Linked DNA regions of Homo sapiens. The protein of the gene in region 2 interacts with the protein of the main gene of each other region in a pairwise test. Each region holds a gene or a part of one and is shown on either strand. Other genes may lie near its edges.

Region 1 (7,022 bases), on a different chromosome or scaffold from region 2:
AAGAAAATAGGTTAAGGCAGAGTTTATGGATCTCACAGACCCCAAACAGATCCCAACACAGTTGAAGGAGGGGTCTAAGACCCTGAGGATTAGATGGGAAGTAGGTGGGGAGCCATGAACAGGGCCATACCATCTCATAGGTCTGCATGGCAAGCTGCACCTTGTCGTCACCAAATTCCTTGCACTTGCCATAGGCTTCCTGGATCTGTTTGAGAAGGGCCAATTTTTCCTCGGAGCTCAGGCTGCGGGCACTACTCATATACTCAGTGGCCAACTTGTCAATTTCAGCCTTCAGGTCTACAACAGAGACAGAGGCCTGGTCACAATGGCCCCTGAGTGGCTAGGTGAAACACATTTCTTCCTTTTGTTCTTTGGACCTTTTCCATTGATTAGCATAACCTTCCAACTAAAAAGTACTGAATGTTCAGAGGTACTGTGCCATGCACTCAAGTAATGGAACATACTGACAATATTTGCTTTAAAGGTCCTTTCAAGGTGCTGAAAACATTGCTATCATAGTTGGAATTTAAATTACTGAAACACAGCAAGGGATCCTTTGCACACCACATTAATATGAAGTGTATTTTTGTCCATGTTTGAAGATGCTTCTTTGAAGGGCTTGCTGCTTCTTGAATTTTGTCTCAAAAGCCATTGTTTCCTTCTCAAAAACATCCCACAGCAGTTGTCTGCCGCAAATCAGGCTGAGTCATCTGCTGTTGCTGGTTTCCAAGTCTGTACATCAATATCATACATTTCAAAATTATTAGTATTTTTTCTTTTTGACACAGGGTCTCACTTTGTCGCCCAGGCTGGAGTGCAGTGGCACAATCATGGCTCACTGCAGCCTCAACTTCCTGAGCTCTGGTGATCCTCCCATCTCAGGCACCACCACGCCTGGCTAATTTTTTCTATTTTTTTGTAGAGACAGGCTTTTTCCACGTTACCCAGGCTGGTCTCGAACTCCTGGGTCAAGCAATCTGCCTGCTTCAGCCTCCCAAAGTGCTGGGATTATTGGGGGTGAGCTACCATGCCTGGCCTAATCTATTTATTTTTAGAGGCAGGCGCAGGTTCTCTCTTATGTTTGTTGCCTAGGCTGACCTCCAACTCCTGTCCTCAAGTGATTCTATCTTTTCGCCTCCTGAGTAGTTGAGTATATCACACAATTTAAAATTAGACCTTACTCCAACATCCATGTAACAATTCTGCTTATCTTACTGCTCACTCTATTTTTCTTTTTTTTTTTTTTTGAGACAGGGTCTCACTCTATTGCCCAGGTTGGATGGAGTGCAGTGGCATGATCATGGATCACACTGCAGCCTCAACCTCTGAGCTCAAATGATCTCCCATTTCAGCCTCTGGAGTAGCTGGGACCACAGGCACATGCCACTACACCCTGATAATTTTTTTAAAAAAATTATTTCTAGAGATGAGGTCTCACTATATTGCCCAGGCTGGTCTTGAACTCCTGGTCAAATGATCCACCTGCCTCAGCCTCCCAAAGTGTTGGGATTCCAGGTGTGAGCCACTGCAGCCAGGCTGCCCATCCTATTTGGCTCATCATTGCAACTTCTTTCATTTTCCATTACTTCTTTTTTTCCTGTTTGTCCATCCTAGATATTGCTCCAAACACGTTTTTTTGTTTTGAGACGGAGTCACGCTCTGTTGCCCAGGCTGGTGTGCAGTGGCACGATCTTGGCTCACCTCAACCTCTGCCTCGTGGGTTCAAGGGATTCTCGTGCCTCAGTCTCCCAAGTAGCTGGGACTACAGGTGTGCGCCACCACATCTGGCTAATTTTTGCATTTTTAGTAGAGATGTGGTTTCACCATGTTGGCCAGGCTGGTCTCGAAGTTCTGATCTCAAGTGATCTGCCCGCCTCGGCCTCCCAAAGTACTGGGATTACAGACATGAGCCACGGCACCCGGTCTCCCAGATGTTTTATTTTATTTTATTTATTTTTTTTTGAGACCAAGTCTCACTGTGTTGCCCAGGCTGGAGTGCAGTAGTGTGATTTCAGCTCACTGCAACCTCCACCTCCCAGGTTCAAGCGATTCTCCTGCATCAGCCTCCTGAGTAGCTGGGATTACTGGCATGCGCCACCACACCCGACTAATTTTTGTATTTTTAGCAGAGACAGGGTTTCACCATATGGGCCAGGCTGATCTCAAACTCCTTATCTCAGGAGACTCACCCGCCTCTGCCTCCCAAAGTGCTGGGATTACAGGCGTAAGCCACCGCACCCGGCCCCAAATGTTTTAATATTGGAAGAATGGTAATGTCCCAGGACATTGAGACTATAGATGTTTACTAATATTTGGAAGGGCTCATAAATATGTCAGTAGTAAGAGACAAGTCTGACTCTAACATAGTGCAGCAACAGATAACCAGGAGGATCTGTGAAGACACTGTTTATACTCCACTTCATTCCAGGCTCTTGGAAGAAGCTGAAAAAGCATATAGTTCCATAATCTCCAACTGTCTTTCCATGCATGAACTCAAGAGTTACAACTGTATTACAAAAAAAGCAATCTGGTTCTCACCATTCGGCAGGCAGTTCTCAGGGAACTGTGTCCAGGGTTTTTGATGATGTTCACCTTTTCATGTGTAAACTCAGAGTAACTTAAGACACAGCTTCATGTATCTCAAAACCAGTCTGTTACATCCTTGAACATGGCTACATAGAATGAAGACAAGACTACAGATCCTTCAGTGGGTATGGGAATAGCTCCAACAGACATCTTTGAAGAAACCAAGTGAATGCCCCAATGCAGCCAAATTTGCTCAATGTTCCAGGCTGGAGATGGTATCTAATGCTTCTGTAAGTGTGAACGGTATAGAGATCCCATTGTCAATTACTGCTTTTTTTTCTTTCCTCTTTCTTTTTTCTTTCTCTTTTTAAGGACTTCTCATATAGCAAACCTCCCATCTACCAACATATGTTGCAGTCTAAAGTCACACTGGGAATTTGTGACAGTAACATTAACAATGAGAGAAGTAGAAACATTCTAGTCATCCTATAAATATATCAAACGTGGAGAGCAGAAATGACTCGAGTTGACTTTCTTTAATTCTTCTTTTTTTTTTTTTTTGAGACAGAGTCTTGCTCTGTTGCCTAGGCTGGAGTGCAGTGACATGTGGCATGATTTGGGCTCACTACAACCTCCACCTCCCAGGTTCAAACGATTCTCACGTCTCAGCCTCCCAAGTAGCTGGGATTACTGGTGCGTGCCACCACACCTGGCTAGTTTTTGTATTTTTAGTAGAGATGGGGTTTCACCATGTGGCCAGGCTGATCTCAAACTCCTGGCCTCAAGTTACCTGCCCGCCTAGGCCTCCCAAAGTGCTGGGATTACAGGTGTGAGCCAGCCTGGCTAATTATTCTCCAGGAAGACATAAAGAACACAGCATCTTTGAATTCTTGAGGCGTTTTCACAATACTCTATTTGTTATGAAAAAGCTGACACAGAAATGAGGATCATTATCCTGTTTTAAGAATTCCAAGAGCGTAAAAAAGGAGCGAGAGAAGCCACAGTTCTCCAGATCATACCAGATGATACGGTAACATCAAGTAGAAAAATAAATGATTACACACACTCATTAGATACAAAAACTTTTTACTCTATACATACCCTCTGTTCTTTGGTCTAGGTCCCTCATGAGCTGAAAGTTTCTCTGTAATTCAAAGGGAAGGTTTTCAATACCTAGGGAAGAGAGAGAAACAATCACAGGACTGACTATGCATAGGCCTTACAGCTCCTTTTAAAGTGCAGTTCAGGCCGGACATGGTGGCTCACGCCTGCAATCCCAGCACTTTGGGAGGCCAAGGGGGTGGATCACTCAAGGCCAGGAGTTCAAGACCAGCCTGGCCAACATGGCGAGACCTCCATCTCTATTAAAAATATGAAAATTAGCCTAGTGTGACGGTGGGCATCTCTAATCCCAGCTACTTGGGAGGCTGAGGCATGAGAATCACTTGAATCCAGGAGGCAGAGGTTGCAGTGAGCCGTGATTGAGCCACTGCACTCCAGCCTGGGCAATAGAGCAAGTCCCTGTCTCAAAAACAAACAAATGGCCAGGCATGGTGGCTCACACCTGTAATCCCAGCACTTTGGGAGGCCGAGGAGAGCAGATCACGAGGTCAGGAGATTGAGACCATCCTGGCTAACATGGTGAAACCCCGTCTCTACTAAAAATACAAAAAATTAGCCAGGTGCGATGGCGGGCGCCTGTACTCCCAGCTACTCAGGAGGCTGAGGCAGGAGAATGGCATGAACCTGGGAGGCGGAGTTTGCAGTGAGCCGAGATCGCACCACTGCACTCCAGCCTGGGCGACACAGTGAGACTCCATCTCAAACAAACAAACAAACAAACAAAAAATAAAGTGCAGCTCAGTTTTCCTTCCTCTGAACCTCTGGATTTATCTGTGACAGGATGGATCAGTTCTCTCATGACAGGCCATGCTTAACTCTTTCTCTACAAAACCTTTCCATTTCTGCATGGCTATCCCACCCTTTTCGCCTTCAGTGACCTTCCTTTATAAATAAGCTCTTCCCGTCAGGTGTGGTGGCTCAAGCCTGTAATCCCAGCACTTTGGGAGGTTGAGGCGGGTGGATCACGAGGTCAGGAGTTCGAGACCAGCCTGGCCAACATGGTGAAAGCCTGTTTCTACTAAAAATATAAAAATTAGCCAGGTGTGGTGGCACGTACCTGTAATCCCAGCTATTCAGGAGGCTGAGGCAGGAGAATCACTTGAACCTGGGAGGCAGAGGTTGCAGTGAGCCAAGACTGCACTACTGCACTCCAGCCTGGTGACAGAGCGAGACTCTGTCTCCAAAAAAAAAAAAAAAAGCTCTTCCCTTTCTTTTCCTTTTTTGTTTTTTGAGACGGAGTCTGGCTCTGTTGCCCAGGCTGGAGTGCAGTGGCACGATCTTGGCTCACTGCAGCCTCCACCTCCTGGGTTCAAGTGATTCTCCTGCCTCAGCCTCTGGAGTAGCTGGGACCACAGGCGCGCGCCACCACACCCGACTAATTTTTGTATTTTTAGTAGACACAGGGTTTCACCATTTTGGCCAGACTGGTCTTGAACTCCTGGCCTCAGGTGATCCGCCCGCCTTGATCTCCCAAAGTGCTGGGATTACTGGCATGAGCCACTAAGACGGGCCCCTTTCTTTTATTTTCCATCTCTGCCTCCAAGCTCTTTGTCCTCAAATTACAAATAGTCTCCTGGTATCCTCTATTATACACATAACACTTCCAATCTACTTCCATATAGTAGCCAGAATGTCCTTTTTAAAAAATGCAAACCTGGCCAGGCACGGTGGCTCATGCCTGTAATCCCAGCACTTTGGGAGGCCCAGGTGGGCGCATCAGCTGAGCTGAGGAGTTCAAGACCAGCCTGGGCAACATGGTGAAACTCTGTCTCTACCAAAAATACAAAAACTTAGCCAGGCTTGGTGCACATGCCTGTAATCCCAGCTACTTGGGAGGCTGGGGCACAAAAATCCCTTGAACCTGGGAGGTGGACATTTCAGTGAGCCGAGATCACGCCAATGCACTCCAGCCTGGATGACAGAGCAAGACACTGACTCAAAAAAACAAAAACAAAAACAAACACAAAAATAAAAAATGCAAACCTAATCAAGTCACTCTCCCGCTTATAACCTTCTGGTCACTTCCTACTGCTCTGAAGATGTTCTGCGCTTTCTGGCCCTTGCTTACCTCACACCAGCCTGAACTCATGTCAGTCTCCCTTTGTGCTCTGCTTTGCCCATACTGGCCTCCTCGCACTGCCTCAAACTGGCCTGTGCTCCTCCTGCCATTTGGCTTTCCACATGCTGTTCTCTCTAGTTGGAATGCACCGCTCGCTTTTCCTCATCCCATCCACCCCATCCCTCTTGGCCTATTAAATTCCTGTTCGTTCTTCCAAAGTTCAGCTCAAACTCAACTTTCCCAGACTCTGTTAACTGCCCTCGATCTATGTCAAGGTATTCTAGCCACCTTTTTAAAGCACTTATCCAACTGTAATTAAATAAATGTGTAATTAGTTGGCTGGGTGCGGTGGCCCATGCCTGTAATCCAGCACTCTGGAAGGCAGGTGGATCACTCAAGGCCAGGAGTTCAAGACCAGCCTTGGCAGCCTGGCAAAACCCCATCTCTACTAAAAATACAAAAATTAGGGCCAGGCACGGTGGCTCATGCCTGTAATTCTAGCACTTTGGGAGGCCGAGGCGGGTGGCTCACTTGAAGCCAGGAGTTCAAGACCAGCCTGGCCAACATGGTGAAACCTGTAATCCCAGATACTTGGGAGGCTGAGGCACAAGAATTGCTTAAATCCGGGAGGTGGAGGTTGCAGTGAGCTGAGATCGCACCACTGCACTTCAGCCTGGGTGACAGAGTGCGACTCCATCTCAAAAACAAAACAAAACAAAAATTAGGCCAGGCGCGGTGGCTCACACCTGTAATCCCGGCACTTTGGGTGGCCGAGGAGAGCAGATTACGAGGTCAGGAGATTGAGACCATCCTGGCTAACATGGTGAAACCCCGTCTCTACTAAAAATACAAAAAAATTAGCTGGCCGTGGTGGCGGGCGCCTGTAGTCCCAGCTACTCGGGAGGCTGAGGCAGGAGAGTGGCGTGCATCCAGGAGGTGGAGCTTTCAGTGAGCCGAGATCGCTCCACTGCACTCCAGCCTGGGCGACAGAGCGAGACTCTGTCTCAAAAAAAAAAAAAAAAAATAGATGGGCATGGTGGCCTGTGGCTGTAGTTCCAGTTACTCAAGAGACTGAGGCAGGACAATTGCTTGAACCAGGGAGGTAGAGGTTGCAGCCCGGGCAAAAGAGCAAGACTGTTTCAAAAAACAAAAAAATTAAAAAAAATAATGTGTAATTAGTTATTTGGTATCTGTCTCCCCAGGCCGAACATGGCTATCATATTCTCTCCTGTTTCCATAGTGTTTAGAATTATGACTTGCAAAGAGCAGGTACTCAGTAAATACTTGAATAAATGCATGAATATTTGTCACCCCA
Region 2 (7,393 bases):
GCTTTGCTGAACTCCTTATCCAAGTAGGCGACCTTCTGTCGAAGACTGGTGAGTTCTGGTGTCGGGAAAGCAGGGAAACTCAGCCTCAGCCAGTGGCAAGAAACTGAAAGGCCTTCCTGCCAGGCCTCTGAGGGAAAACCTCGGACACCATTCCCCAAAGCCACCCCCATCTAATAAGGCCCTCCTGGCTCACCAACACCATTCTTGCGTAGTTCATCTGAAAGCTGGTAGTTGTTTGTCCGGAGTTCCAGGAGCTGAGCCTTTGGGGGAGGCAGGAAGGGAAAAGACTTGGTCAGGAAAGCGCCCCTACCCCTACCATGAGGGAACCAAGCCCCTAAGCTCCACAGACCTTACGCCCTCCATGTGCCTCTGTAGCTACTCCTTAAGACCTGTATGTGCTACACCCAAAGTGACCTTCCAGGCCCTCAGACCCTGGCTCACCTTTTCCAGCTCCACTTATAACCCCAGCCAGCCTCACCCCTCCATCTCACACTACAATCCACGCTGCACTCAGGCCATCCCAGAGCACTGCCCCCAGTCAGGGTCTTGCTTGTGTGAGTTCCCTGGCTCTCCATGCCCACAGGATAAAGTTCCTCCTCCTCATCCTGGCTGACCTCTCCACACACTGAACACACACTGTCAGGGGTGTTGTCCATATTTCTGACCAGACCTGGGGGCCTCTGATGGCAGGGGGTTAAGGGCCTGTCTTCCTCCCTCTTTCCTAAGGGAAAAGGGTCAAGTATTCTGCCCAACTTTCATTGAGTCAGGGGGCTTTCCAGGGTCCCCCCACCTCCAAGGCTCTCAAAATACATCCAGGCCCCCTTCAATAATTAAGGGAGGACCAGGTGCGGTGGCTCACACCTGTCATCCCAGCACTTTGGGAGGCCAAGGCGGGTGGGTCACGAGGTAAGGAATTCAAAATCAGCCTGCCCAATATGGTGAAACCCCGTCTCCACTAAAAATATAAAAAATTAGCCGGGTGTGGTGGCGCACACCTGTAGTCCCAGCTACTCGGGAGGCTGAGGCAGGAGAATCGCTTGAACCTGGGAGGTGGAGGTTGCAGTGAGCCGAGATTGTGCCACTGCACTCCAGCCTGGGTGACAGAGTGAGACTCTGTCTCAAAAAAAAAAAAAAAAAAAAAAAAAAAAAAGAATTAAGGGAAAGTGCCAGGCGCAGTGGCTGACACCTGTAATCCAAACACTTTCGGAGGCCAAAGTGGGCAGATCACTTGAGGTCAGGAGTTCAAGACCAGCCTGGCCAACATGGTGAAACCTCATCTCTACTAAAAATACAAAAATTAGCTGGGCGTGGTGGTACGCACCTGTAATCCCAGCTACTAGGGAAGCTGAGATAGGAGAATCACTTGAACCCGGGAGGTGGAGGTTGCAGTGAGCTGAGATCGTGCCACTGCACACTATAGCCTGGGTGACAGAGAAAGACTCTGTCTCAAAAAAAAAGAAAAAGAAAAAGAATTAAGCATCCTCCTCCCTACCAGCCCTATAGGACCCTGAGGCTGGTTCTACCCAGCAAGGCCGGTTCCTTCCCATTAAGGAACTTACTGTTCCTTCCCCTACCAGGACTTTTCCCTCCCTCCCACGCCACCAGCCTCCACTCACTGTTCTCTGGTAGTCTGCTCAAGGTCAGAGGGCTTGGCCTTCACAGAATCTTTCCTACTCCTGTCCTCTCCAGGACCCAGTGATCTGTCTCTCCAAGTACTGGTCCAAGTGGAATATCCTTTGTACCCCCCGAGACTTGCCCCCCAACAAAGCCCAGTAGTTCTCCCTCATTCATGGCCCAGTGGGATCAATGTTCCTCATTCAAGGGTATTCCCACTCCCCTCAAGATCTCCCCAGTCATGATCCATTGGGAATGGCCCTACACCCTTCAGGGTAGGCCTCTACAAGGCCTTGGGTAGGCCAGTTGGATGACTCTTACTCACTTAGAATCCCTTTCAGATGACAGTGGTCTTCCCCATTCATGGGTTAATCAACTCGCCCTTCCATTCTCAGTGTCCCTCACACAGGGACAGCTGGTTTCCCTCATTCAAGGACCAATTGGATTACCTGTCCTCCCTCAGAGTTCCTCCCCTCCCCATGCAGGACCCTGTTCAGACCCCCCCCCCAGTGAGGAACCCTCTCAACAAGGGCCCATTCATAGTGCAATGCTATGGCCTTTCATTGCATCTCAGAGTCCCCCCAAAAGAATCAAGTGGGGGTACCTCCCCAAAGCCCAGTGATCTTCCCTCCTTGTAGTCCAAGGTATCAATCTTTTACCCCTCTGGTCCTCCCCCCAGTTAATGGGATTAATGGTATTACCCATTCATGGCCTTCTTCACCCCAGGCCTAATGGGATCACCCTTAATCATCCAATGGTGCCGCCCCCTCTTAGGATGCACTACCAACCACCAATGGCACAGGATCTCCACCTCCCAGGAACAATGACAACATCTGGGGTCTTTCCCCAATCCCCGGGCACAGTGGTATCTCCCCCAAAACTTACCACCTCCCACCCGCTAATGGTTCTGCCCTCTCAAGGGCTCCCACCACCATGACGCAAACGACCCAACACCCGCTTCCTTCCTCTCCAGACAAAATGGTTTCGCCTTCTCAGGATCTCCTTCCCTCAAAGCCCATTATCATCACCCGCCGACGGTGTCCCCTGCACGGGCCCAAAAGTCTCGTCCCCTCCAGGTCTGAGTAAGGTACCGCCTACTTAATGGCGCTCTCCCAGCCCACAATGCTAACAGAGTCCAACCTTCAAAGCCGCAGAGTATCTCGGAATCCAATAGTCTCACCACTCCGAGCCTCAGTTTCCCTTCTCCAGACCCACCCCATAAACTCAGGGTCCATCCCAACCAACCCCTTCTCAGAGCTGATAGCACGACCTCTCGCTACCCCGCCCCCGGTCGCCTAGCCGGGTGGTCTTTCCCACCGCGAGCGGCACCTGCATCCGCTGAAACTCCTCCTCAGACAGAGCTTGCGCCATGTTCCTCCCCCCACCCCCCCGCCAGCTTTCTGCGCAGACGCAGCTCGCGCCTCCTGGCAGTATTAAGGTCGGACCAAACCACTGGCCAGGAATGGAGGGGGTAGAACCTAATTCCGAAGGGCAGCATTTTGGAGACGCAGAGAAGAGAACGAAACCGACGAGTCAGGTGAACTGTAATACAACGTTCTACCCGAATGTAAGTCATCTGATTGGCTTTTGGACTCTTCTAGGCCACCCATTGTGATACGACATTATTACATCCCCGTTTCATGGGTGGACTCGTCGCTAGGGAAGTCTTTGCCGACAGAAAATCACCCTTCCGCGGTATTCCTTTAATGAGAATGGGTAACTTAATAACCATAGAAATGAAAGCGGAAGCTTCGCTCTGGTCTTGTTCCCGCCCCTCCTCCGGGAGACCCCAAAGGGGAATCCCACCTCTTGTAAAGCCTTTGGCCTTTTTTTTTTTTTTTTTTTTTAAGGTTTGACACTTATTTTGTTATCATGATACTGCATGTCACGTTAGGTAAAGGACTTAGCCACCAATAAAAATAGCAGAGTGGAAAGAGTGACAGTGAATCAAACGAAAAAGCTACATTAAAACAAAACAAAAACAAAAAACAAACCAGGGTGGTGAAACACCAGGCTCATTCAAGTATTAGAATTCACTATAACCCTCACCGATCTGAGAGTAAGAAATGGTATCTCAGTGTAGTTTTTTTCTTATTTTCTTTTTTCTTTCTGTTTTTGTTGTTGTTGTTGTTGTTGTTTTTCTTTTTTGAGACGGAGTTTCACTTTTGTTGCCCAGGCTGGAGTGCAGTGGCACGATATCCGATCACAGCAACCTCCGCTTGGCGAGTTCAAGCGATTCTCCTGCCTCAGCCTCCCGAGTAGCTGGGATTACAGGCGCCCGCCACCTCGTCCGGGTAATTTTTTTTTTTTTTTTTAGTAGAGACGGGGTTTCTCCATATTGGTCAGGCCGGTCTCGAACTCCCGACCTCAGGTAGTCCGCCCGCCTCGGCCTCCCAGAGTGCTGGGATTAAGGCGTGAGCCACCGCGCCCAGCCTTCTTATTTTCGTAGAATTTAATGATTTCCCTGCTGTGGAAAAATATTTCCAGCAGGGCCGGGCGCGGTGGCTCACGCCTGTAATCCCAGCACTTTGGGAGGCCAAGGAGGGCTGTTCACTTGCGGTCAGGAGTTCGAGACTAACCTGGCCAACATGGTGAAACCCCATCTCTACTAAAAACACAAAAATTGGCCGGGTGTGGTGGTGGGCGCCTGTAATCCCAGCTACTCGGAAGGCTGAGGCACGAGAATCGCTTGAACCCGCCAGGCAGAGGTTGCGGTGAGCCGAGATCGCACCACTACACTCCAGCCTGGGGGATAGAGCGAGACTCTGTCTCCAAGAAAAGAAAGAAAAAGAAAAGTATTGCCAGCCAGGACTCTTTGATTTCTTTCTTGATTTAATTGACTTTATTGAAAGATAACGCTATTGATCTGTCTATATACATAAATGCACCCATTTTAAGGGTACAATTTAGTGAGCTTTGTCTAATGTATACAACCTTGTAACCACCATCACAAGCAAGATAGGGAACATTGATTTCTTTGTATCCTATCCCAAACCCCACCCCCTATCCCAGGTAACCAATGATTGGCTTCCTGTTACTGGATTACATTTCTCTTGCAGAGTTTCATGCAAATAGAATGAGACAGGATGTATCCTTTTCTGTCTGGCTTCTTTCACTCATCATAATCCTTTTGAGATTCATCCAAGTTGTTTCGTGTATAAGTATCTTTTTTTCTTTTTATTGACTAGTAAAATTCCATAGTATGGGCCGGGCGGGCTCAGTGGCTCACGCCTGTAATCCCAGCACTTTGGGAGGCCGAGGCAGGTGTATCACCTGAGGTCAGGAGTGCAAGACCAGCCCAGCCAGCATGGTGAAACCACATCTGTACTAAAAATACAAAAATAAGCTAGGAGTGATGGTACACGCCTGTAATCACAGCTACTCAGGAGGCTGAGGCATGAGAATCGCTTGAACCCAAGAGGTGGAGGGTGCAGTGAGCCGAGATCGTGCCACTGCACTCCAGCCTTAGCGATAGAGGGGAAAACTCTGTCTCAAAAACAAAACAAAACAAAACAAAATCCATAGTATGACTATACCACAATTTGTTTATCCATTCTCTTAGTGTAGTTTTAATTTGTGTTTCTCTTATTATGAGTGAGATTCACCACCTTGTCCTATGTTTATTTTATTTTTAATTTTTATTTATTTGTTTTTTTGAGACGGAGTTTCACTCTTGTTGCCCAGGCTGGAGTGCATTGGCGCGATCTCAGCTCACTGCAACCTCCGCCTCCCAGGTTCAAGCAATTCTCCTGCCTCAGCCTCCCAAGTAGGTGGGATTACAGGCGCCTGCCACCATGCCCGACTAATTTTTGTATTTTTAGTAGAGACAGGGTTTTACCACATTGGTCAGGCTGGTCTTGAACTCCTGACCTCAGGCGATCCACCTGCCTCGGCCTCCCAAAGTGCTGGGATTACAGGCATGAGCCACCGTGCCCGAACTTATTTTATTTCATTTTATTTTATTTTGAGACAGGGTCTTGCTCTACCGCCCACGCAGGAGTGTAGTGGCACAATCAGGGCTCACTGCTGCCTTGACTTCCTGGGCTCAAGCAATTCTCCCACCTCAGCCCCCCAAGTAGCTGGGACTACAGACATATGCCACCAAGAATCATTTTAATATCTGTTCTTATTTTATTTTTTTAATTTAATTATTATTTTTCTTTTGAGACAGAGTCTCCCTCTGTTGCCCAGGTTGGAGTGCAGTGGTGCAATCTCGGCTCACTGCAATCTCTGCCTCCCGGGTTCAAGAGATTCTCCTGCCTCAGCCTCCCAAGTAGTTGGGACTACAGGCACCCACCATCATGCCCAGCTAATTTTTGTATTTTTAGTAGAGACGGGGTTTCACCATGTTGGCCAGGTTGGTCTCAAACTCCTGACCTCAAGTTATCCTCCCGCCTCTGCCTCTCAAAGTGCTGGGGTTACAGGTGTGCACAACCGCACCTGGCCTCTTTGCATATTAGGAATATTAACAACTTTTTTGGGTGAGGGTGTACGGAGTTTTGCTCTTGTCGCCCAGGCTGGAGTGCAATGGCGTGATCTTGGCTCACCACAACCTCTGCCTCCCGGGTTCAAGCGATTCTCCTGCCTCAGCCTCACGAGTAGTTGGGATTACAGGCACCCACCACCACGTTTGTATTTTTAGTAGAAATGGGGTTTCACCATGTTGGCCAGCCTGGTCTCGATCTCCTGACCTCAGGTGATCCACCCGCCTCGGCCTCCCAAAGTGCTGGGATTAAAGACGTGAGCTAAGCTACCACACACGGCCTTTTCCTTTTCTTTTTCTTTTTTTTTTTTTTTTTGAGACAGGGTCTCGCTCTGTCATCCAGACTGGAGTGCAGTGGTGCAATCTCGGCTCACTTCAGCCTCGACCTTCTGGGCTCAACCAGTCCTCCTACCTCAGCCTCCCAAGTAGCTGGGACTACAGGCACAGGCTACCATGCCCAGCTAATTTTTTTTTAATTTTTTGTAGAAACCAAGTCTTACTATGTTGCCCAGGCTGGTCTCAAACTCCTGGGCTCAAGTGATCCACCCACATCTGCCTTCCAAAGTGCTAAGATTTCAGGGGTGAGCCACCACACTAGGCCTACTTTTGGTTTTTTTTTGTATGTGTGTGATTTTTTGAGATGAAGTCTCGCTCTGGAGTTCAGTGGCCCGATCTTGGCTTACTGCAACCTCTGCCTCCCAGGTTCTAGCGATTCTCCTACCTCAGCCTCCCAAGTTGCTGGGATTATGGGCACGTGACACCATGCCCGTCTAATTTTTGTATTTTTGGTGAGACAGGTTTCACCATGTTGGCCAGGTTGGTCTCAAACTCCTGGCTGCAAGGGATCTGCCCACCTCAGCCTCCCAAAGTGCTGGGATTACAGGCGTGAGCCACCGTGCCCGGCCCTTGCCTACATTTGTAATATATAAATTATGTTGTCACAGTCTCCATTCCATACTGGATTCCCTGACCTCCTGGTTGCTTTTTTTAAAATTTTGCATACATTAACAAACTTTTTTTATATCGTAAAGATCAATGGGTTTTGACAGAAGCATTTTAAAGTGTTCCACACATAGATTTTTTTCACATTTCTTGTTAGATTTCTTCCTAATTATTTTCTTTGATGCTATGGATGCTATTGTAAATGAGGTTTTCTCTATCATTGTATCTCTTTTTTTTTTTTCGGTAGAGACAGGATCTCACTATGTTGCCCCAGCTGGACTGCACTGGCTATTTATAGGCATGATCATGGCACACTACAGCCGTGAACTCCTGGGCTCAAGCCATCCTCCCATT
Region 3 (7,969 bases), on a different chromosome or scaffold from region 2:
AAGACCAACACTATTTCTGGAATAAAAGACACCCGATGAGATAAACAGGACTACCACAGCCTTTTTCTTTCTTCTTTCTTTCCTTTCTTTCTTTCTTTTCTTTTCTTTTTTCAGGGTCTCACTCAGTCACTCAGGCTGGAGTGCAGTGGCATGATCTCAGCTCACTGAAGCTTCAACTTGATGAGCTCAAGCGATCCTCCTGTCTCGACCTCCCAAATAGCTGGGACTACAGGCATGTGCCACCATACTTCGCTAATTTTTGTATTTTTACTCGGGATGGGGGTTCACCATGTTGCCCAGACTGGTCTCAAACTCCTGGGCTCAAGCAATCCACCTGCCTCGGCCTCCCAAAGTGCTGGGATTACAGGAATAAGCTACCATGCCTGGCCATAGCTTTATTCTTATTAAGTAGTGTTTATTATGAGTTAGTCCACATAATATAACCAGATAAAGATGGTTAGTGAATTATGATTTTTTTGTTAAAACACTACTACAGCAAAAAGAGGCTGGCATTCTTTTCCTTTTTTTTTTTTTTTTTTTTTTTTTTTTGAGACAGTGTCTTTCTCTGTCACCCAGGCTGGAGTGCAGTGGCGCAGTCTCAGCTCACTGCAACCTCCACTTCCCAGATTCAAGCAACTCTGGTGCCTCAGCATCCAGAGTAGTTGGGATTACAGGCACATGCCACCACACCTGGCTAATTTTTCTATTGTTAGTAGAGACAGGGTTTTACCATGTTGGCCAGACTGGTCTCAAAGGCTGTACTGGCATGGATATATGGTCAATAGTTTAAAAATTATGGAAGCCGGCCGGGCGCGGTGGCTCACGCCTGTAATCCCAGCACTTTGGGAGGCCGAGGCGGGCGGATCACGAGGTCAGGAGATCGAGACCATCCCGGCTAACACGGTGAAACCCCGTCTCTACTAAAAATACAAAAAATTAGCCGGGCGTAGTGGCGGGCGCCTGTAGTCCCAGCTACGTGGGAGGCTGAGGCAGGAGAATGGCGTGAACCCGGGAGGCGGAGCTTGCAGTGAGCCGAGATCCCGCCACTGCACTCCAGCCTGGGCGACAGAGCGAGACTCCGTCTCAAAAAAAAAAAAAAAAAAAAAAAAAAATTATGGAAGCCACTGCATTTTCAACCTAACATGTTAGCCTTCCCCTGGGATCCTTCACTGGATCGTAGAGCCTCCAGCCTTGCTCTGAGAATAAGTGGGATCGTGATAAAGGTACAGTCCTGCACTGGGTGGCCCTGGCCACAGGGACCCGTGGGACTTTAATGACAGCAAGCACTGTCCAACAGGGTCCAATGAGGAAGATGGTAAAAATCAGGAAACTTGCTGGGATGATGTGAGGCATGTCAACTTTCTGATTTTCTTTAATGAAGTTTTTAAAGTCTGGTGCCTTCTCCTGGATTAGAGGAGAAAAGCTGGAATGTTAATATTTTCTTTAACTCCCTGCCCTGCCTCCCATCCACCAAGAGATACGGTTGCAGAGGGGGAAAGAGCCACATGCCCCTTGGAGAGGAAGTACAGAATCAGTGTCCCGGGGTGGTGCATTCCTACAGGGGTCCAGCAAGGGAAAGTCCAATGACGGGCCTCAGGGACAGGAATCAGGGTCCCGCCTGGTGGGACTAACTCTGTCCCCACAGAGCTCAACTCACTGGCATCTCCCCAGTGTTGCAGTCCTCCGTGAGAACCTCGGCTGCCACAGCTGTCTTCTCCATGACAGCCCCAGCTCCTGGGCACGGGTCCTCTGGGTGGGTGCCCTCTTTGGGGTCCCTGGCCTCGAGTTGACCTGCCAGCATCCTGGTTGGGAAGGGAAGGGCTATGGGGACACTTGAATGCAGCCCTCCTACCCCGTCAGTGTGGGCTGAAGGCCCCAGCCCCAAACTAAGGGTGAGCAGGACCCGCAGCCGCTCCTTCTCCCCCTGGGTCATGTGCACATTCCCAGGCCCGAAGCTGACCAGGTGAAAGGACACCACAGACAGAGGGACTGAGCTGTCCACACCTGGCTCTCCACCATCCTCCGTGGAAAATGCTTTAGATCCTAGAAGATCAGCCTGACACCTAACACACTCCAGTCATCCAAAGAGGGGTGTGAGTGGGGTGTGAGCCGGTGTGAGTGGGATGTGAGTGGGTTGTGAGCAGGATATGAGCGGAATGTGAATGGATGTGAGCGGATGTGAGCACGATGGTCTTGGGGTATGAGCAGGTGTGAGTGGAATGGTCTCAGGGTGTGAGCAGGTGTGAGTGGAGGGTCGCATGAGACACCGAGGGAATTCTCAGCCCTTTAATCAGCACCCACCTGGAGGGGCACAGGCAGACCCTCCACCGTGTTGAGTATGTGTCTTGAACCATCAGGGTGACATTTGTGAATTCATGGTGAAGATGTGGAAAGGAAACACCTTTTTATAGGTACAGCATTTATGCCAGTTCTAGGAAGTTCACAGCAATTAGAGAACAAAAACGAAAGAGAAAAACGCAAAGCTTTCCTGCAAGCCTGCAGGGTCGTCTCTGAAAGCTGCCTCCACCCCTGCCTTGCCCTGTCCGTTTTAGGAAGCCAGTGGCCCCCAACGAAACCCCGACTGTTTAATTCATAAACTTCTAACTGTGTGAGAAGGAACAGTTTAACCACAGTGATCGGAGAAATGCTATTTAAAAGAGAGTCTCCTGATGGAAGCGAATCGAAGGTCTAGAGCAAGACCTACCAGTAACCAGATCACTGCCATTCCTTCCCCGCGGAGACTGGGAATGTTTCTGCGGAAGTGGGCTGGGGTCACGGTCCTCACAGCCCTGAGAAAGCTCCTTCTTTCCTGCTCCTCTGAGGGGACACCCCAGTGTCCTCGGCCCCAAACTCATGACCCCCTCAGTCCAGGGAAGACCCTTTCCTTCAGCCCCACCACCAGACCTCGTCACCTCACCTGGTCCCCAACAGTCACTACTGCCAGGATCAGATCATCTGGGCCATGTCCCCACAGTTGTCCCCAAGCCCTCCTGCCTCATATCCAGAGACCAGAGAGCAGCGGACAGTTCCAACGGACTTTCTGTCTTAAAGGGACATGAACGTCTCACTCAGCGTCACCACTGTACCAGCTCAGATAATAATTAAACATCCCCAAACCTGCAATTCTTAATATAGAAGCTCATCGTCAGTGGAGTCCATCCATCCACAAAGGACATTGGAGAGAGTCAAACTACTCCTCCAAATTGACAAAAACCATGTGTTTTATATCCAGTCTTCAATACGCAACGTGTAGTAAGAGCTCATTTCTCTGAGCATACATTCTTGGAGAAATACAAACTTTCTTCGGATATCAAATTATTTACTAGAAAAAACATTTTTATGAAGGGAAAATAATATATGTGAGTTTAAATAGGAGACAGGATTCAAAGTTTCATCATTTCACTAAATGCATCTCCATCTGAATTGTCCGTGTGATTTTTGTGATAGAGAAGAGAATGAGGAGCAAGCAAGAGTCGATATTCCTGTTAAACCCTGGCTGTCCTTCTCATCCATGGTGCTGCGTGTGGACAACATACACCTGGGGCTCACCTGAGCCTGCTTGGGACGTGTGTCACTTGGATAGTTCTGCAAGCGATTCGCATGCAATAGGCAGTAAATGCCGACGTCATGAATGAATGAAGAGAATACTACAAAGAGGAAACAGAAGGCACTTTTGTCCCCATGTGTCATTCTAACTGTGAGAGTGTGTGTGTGTGTCCTGAGGTGTGCGAGTGTGTGTGTGTGTGTCCTGAGGTGCGTGAGAGGTTGTATGTTTGTCCTGAAGTGTGTGAGAGTTTATATAGGTTTCTGAGGTATGTGAGGGGTTGTGTGTGTCCCTGAGGTGTATGAGGTGTGTGTGGGTCCTGAGGTGTGTGAGTGGTTGTGTGTGGGTCCCTGAGGTGTGTGAGAGGTTGTGTGTGGGTCCTAAGGTGTGTGAGTGGTTGTGTGTGGGTCCTAAGGTGTGTGAGAGGTTGTGTGTGGGTCCTAAGGTGTGTGAGTGGTTGTGTGTGGGTCCTAAGGTGTGTGAGAGGTTGTGTGAGTCCTGAGGTGTGTGAGAGGATTGTGTGTGAGTCCTGAGGTGTGTGAGGGGTTATGTATGGGCCCCTGAGGTGTGTGAGGGGTTTTATGTGTGTCCTGAGAAGTGTGATGAATTGTGTGGGTCCTGAGGTGTGTGAGGGTTTGTGTATGAGACCCTGAGGTGTGTCAACATTGTGTGTGAGACCCTGAGGTGTGTGAGGGGTTGTGTGTGGATTCCTGAGGTGTGTGAGGGCTTGTGTGTATGAGCCTGAGGTGTGTGGGTTCCTTATATGGGTTCCTGAGGTGTGTGAGGGGTTGTGTGTGTGTCCTGAGGTGTGTGAGGGGTTGTGCTTGGGTCCTGGGGTGTGTGAGTGGGTGTTTGTCCTGAGGTGTGTGAGAGGTTGTGTGTGTGTCCTGAGGTGTGTGAGAGTTTGCGTAGGTTCCTGAGGTATGTGAGGGGTTGTGTGTGTCCTGAGGTGTGTGAGAGGTTGTGTGAGTCCCTGGGGTGTGTGAGAGTTTGTGTAGGTTTCTGAGGTGTGTGAGAGTTTGTGTAGCTTCCTGAGGTGTGTGAGAGGTTGTGTGAGTCCCTGAGGTGCGTGAGGGGTTGTGTGTGTCCTGAAGTGTGTGAGAGGTTGTGTAGGTTTCAGGCTTTGCAGCTCCCCTCCTGAGCCTCAGCCGGGCGGCTCCCAGGGCAGGGTCCCCCCATCCCTGTCTCTGCTGCGGCTCTCTGTGTGTTGCTCTTCCCGGCCTGGCCAGGACATTTTCTTCATTGAGTCTTCCCCAGATTCTCACCCTGCAGCAACCACGTGCGGCAGCAGGTCAGGGCGGAGGCTCCTGGGCGTTTGGACTGTGGGGCCCTTCTCTTCTCTCTGATAAGGCCCCGGTTTTCTGTTCAGCCTCGCGGTGCCTTAGCCGCATTTCAGGCATGGTCTTCCAGGGCCCTCTGGTCTGAACATTCTGTAGAGGAAACCACGGCACACCTTTCACTCATCTTTTAAAATCAGAAGCCAGTTCCTGAGCTGGCTGCTTGGAGTAGCAGCAGATACACTTTTTAAAGTAGCTTATGTGTTTAAATTTCTGGTTCAAAGGACTACTTCTATAGTGGTACAGACCCTGACAAAAGAAATCACCTTTTCTAAATATCATCACTGCAAATGGGCAATATGACCTGGGAACTGGTGAGATGCCATTGAGATTGGAGCCCACCCCACCAGAGCTGAGTGAATTCTTGGATGACTAAATGTCGGAATAAGTTAGGGAGGGGTGCATGTCATCCAAAGAATGACATGAGCTCACTCTGTGCCTCAAGTGACACAGATCATAGTAGATTCCAGCGAAATACTTGCAGCTGTGTTGAGTTCCTCAAACTACCACAAAATTCTTATGGCAAAACTTGTGAGAGGTGAAGATAAGAGAGTGTGAGCCCTGTGATCGAATCCAAATATGAATTGTAAAATATGCCTTAATACTATTACCAGTAGCTGTAGTGTACAATGATAGAACCAAAAGATAAAGATTTTCGGCCGGGCATGGTGGCTCACGCCTGTAATCCCAGCACTTTGGGAGGCTGAGGTGGGCAGATCACAAGGTCAAGAGATCAAGACCATCCTGGCCAACATGGTGAAACCCTGTCTCTGCTAAAAATAAAAAAATAAAAAAAATTAGCTGGGTGTGGTGGCACGCGTCTGTAGTCCCAGCTACTTGGGAGGCTGAGGCAGGAGAATTGGTTGAACCTGGGAGGTGGAGGCTGCAGTGAGCCAAGATGGCACCACTGCACTCCAGTCTGGCGGCAGAGTGAGACTCCATCTCAAAAAAAAACAAAACAGATAAAGATTTTCTACTCATTTTCTAGTTGTCCCGTCAGTGGTGCATTTCAGCACACTCAAAACTCCATGTTTCTTTTGGATTTTATGAGCTGAGTCTGAATGTTATAAGTGACACACTCCTTTTTTTTTTTTTCTTCTTCTTGTGAGACAAGGTTTTGCTCTGTTGCCTAGGCTGGAGTGCAGTGGCACCATCTCGGTTCACTGCAACCTTGACCTCTTAGGCTCAAGCAATCCTCCCACCTCAGCCTCCCTAGTAGCTAGAACTACAGGTTCACACCACCACACCCAGCTAATTTTTGAATTTTTGGTAGAGACAGGTCTCGCTATATTGCACTGGCTGGTCTCGAACTTCTGGACTCAAGTGATCCACCTGTCTCAACCTCTTAAAGTGCTGGGATTACACACTCTTTAAAAATGTTCTCTGTACAATATTTCGTAAAGGTTGAGAATAAGGAAAGACATTGCCCCTTTAAGCAAAGTGGTAAGGCAACATATAAAAACGACTCAATCCACAATAGTGAGAATTTCCGTTAATTACATTCTAAAGTTTTTTTGTTTAAAATGAATTGAGGGAGTACAGTATGCTCTTCAAGATAATGAACAGAGAAAAATGCCCAATGACTGCTAGCCATCCCAATAATGTATTTACTCTACGTTGTGTTATTTTGTTTCTGCAGTAGGACCCAACTGATTAGAAAGGAAATTACATAGTCAGTGACCAGCTGAGACTGAGTACGGACAGAGGAAGAAGCTAACTTACATCTAAAGAGACCTGAAGTCAGGAGACATTTCTAGATAAACCCCTCAGCCAGATAACATCAACCCATGACTTCCAATACCATTGCTGAAGAGGTCACAGAGGAGAGAGAATCCTGAGAAGATTTTTAAAATCTGAAAGTTCTTGTATTAAAAGAAGTGGGAAGTTTCTTGGTATGTGTATGAAGCCTAAGATTGAGATAGTGGTACTGAGGGTGGCATGATACCCCATTGAGGCTGGGAGTTTTATTTCTTTTAAGTCTTTCTGTAGGTATACCTCTGTGGGTTCCTGCCACTTCTAAACCATAGTTATAAGGCCAATAAATACATAAAACAATCTTCCTACTGCTCGCAGGCACCATGCTCTTCCTAATAGCTCTATAAGAACCCTTTATTGCTCGTGACCCTGTGTCCACATTATGCTATCTGATTATTCATAATTTTTCTCGGATCTGCTTGATATGAAACATGGATACAGCCATATTTGAAGGAACATGTTACAGGAAAAGAAACCCCGACCTCGGAATCTGAGGATTTGTATAATTTGGACTTTACACAAAATAATTATGTAATTTTGGGCAAGTCCCTTAATACAGTATTTGAACTCAATTTTATTGCCCCTTTTAGGTCTAAACTCTCAGCTGTGAGTACTAATTTGTGGCGTGATGGTGAGGTGAAATGGCAGAGGCCCATGGCACATCATTGCAGAATATGCGTTAGACTTTCACAAGTCATCAGTCATGAATTTCAGGATCTGGCTGCTTGTCTTCATGGGAGACGTCAGGTACAGCTTGCAATTAGCTAAGGGGTTCATCTTACAATACCTCTAATTACTGCTTTAGCTAAAAGCCCCCATGAAAGACACAAGTTTACCACATCATATGAACCCATGGTAAATATTTTGTGACCTGATACTTATCCAGTCAGTGCTCTGTTAGCCAGAACTAAATAGTTGCCAGAAAAATGAAAACTAATATTCATAATACTGGTCTTGAAATACTACAAAATCATGGGACAAAATCAGCTAGTCGGGAGACTGGAGTGGGAGGATCACTTGAGCCCAGGAGGCAGAGGCCGCAGTGAGCTGAGATTGTGGCACTGGACTCCAGCCTGGGTGAGTGAGTGAGACAATGTCTGAAAAAGAAGGAAAAAGAAATAAAGAAAGAAAGAAAGAGAAAGAAGAAAGAAAGAAAGAAAGAGAGAGGTAGGGAGGGAGAGAGGGAGGAAGGAAGGAGAAAGAGAAAGAAAAAGAAAGAAAGAGGAAAGAAAGAGAGAGAGAGAAAGAAGGAAAGAAGGAAGGAAAGAAGGGAGGGAGGGAGGGAGGGGAGAGGTTTGAAGAGGCTCACTCTGCCTGAAGACAGGAAGGGACC

Evidence for each region. Proteins that work in one complex are often made in the same cells at the same time.
Region 1: the proteins of GRIPAP1 (region 2) and ING4 interact in binary tests that used the Homo sapiens proteins (3 or more experiments, as listed by UniProt).
Region 3: the proteins of GRIPAP1 (region 2) and TCP10L interact in binary tests that used the Homo sapiens proteins (3 or more experiments, as listed by UniProt).

What each region holds. Positions count from the first base shown.
Region 1 is NC_000012.12:6,653,100-6,660,121, forward strand, and holds part of ING4 (inhibitor of growth protein 4), read right to left. Parts: intron 3,701-7,022; exon of another isoform or gene 3,700-3,700; coding exon 3,628-3,699; intron 2,815-3,627; exon of another isoform or gene 2,539-2,814; intron 298-2,538; coding exon 131-297; intron 1-130.
Region 2 is NC_000023.11:48,999,245-49,006,637, forward strand, and holds the start of GRIPAP1 (GRIP1-associated protein 1), read right to left. Parts: upstream 3,021-7,393; 5' UTR 2,986-3,020; coding exon 2,944-2,985; intron 261-2,943; coding exon 194-260; intron 56-193; coding exon 1-55. UniProt on the Homo sapiens protein: Regulates the endosomal recycling back to the neuronal plasma membrane, possibly by connecting early and late recycling endosomal domains and promoting segregation of recycling endosomes from early endosomal membranes.
Region 3 is NC_000021.9:32,582,504-32,590,472, forward strand, and holds the start of TCP10L (T-complex protein 10A homolog 1), read right to left. Parts: upstream 3,021-7,969; 5' UTR 2,918-3,020; intron 1,803-2,917; 5' UTR 1,802-1,802; coding exon 1,658-1,801; intron 1-1,657. UniProt on the Homo sapiens protein: May be involved in transcriptional regulation. Has in vitro transcription inhibition activity. Acts as a tumor suppressor in hepatocellular carcinoma (HCC) cells.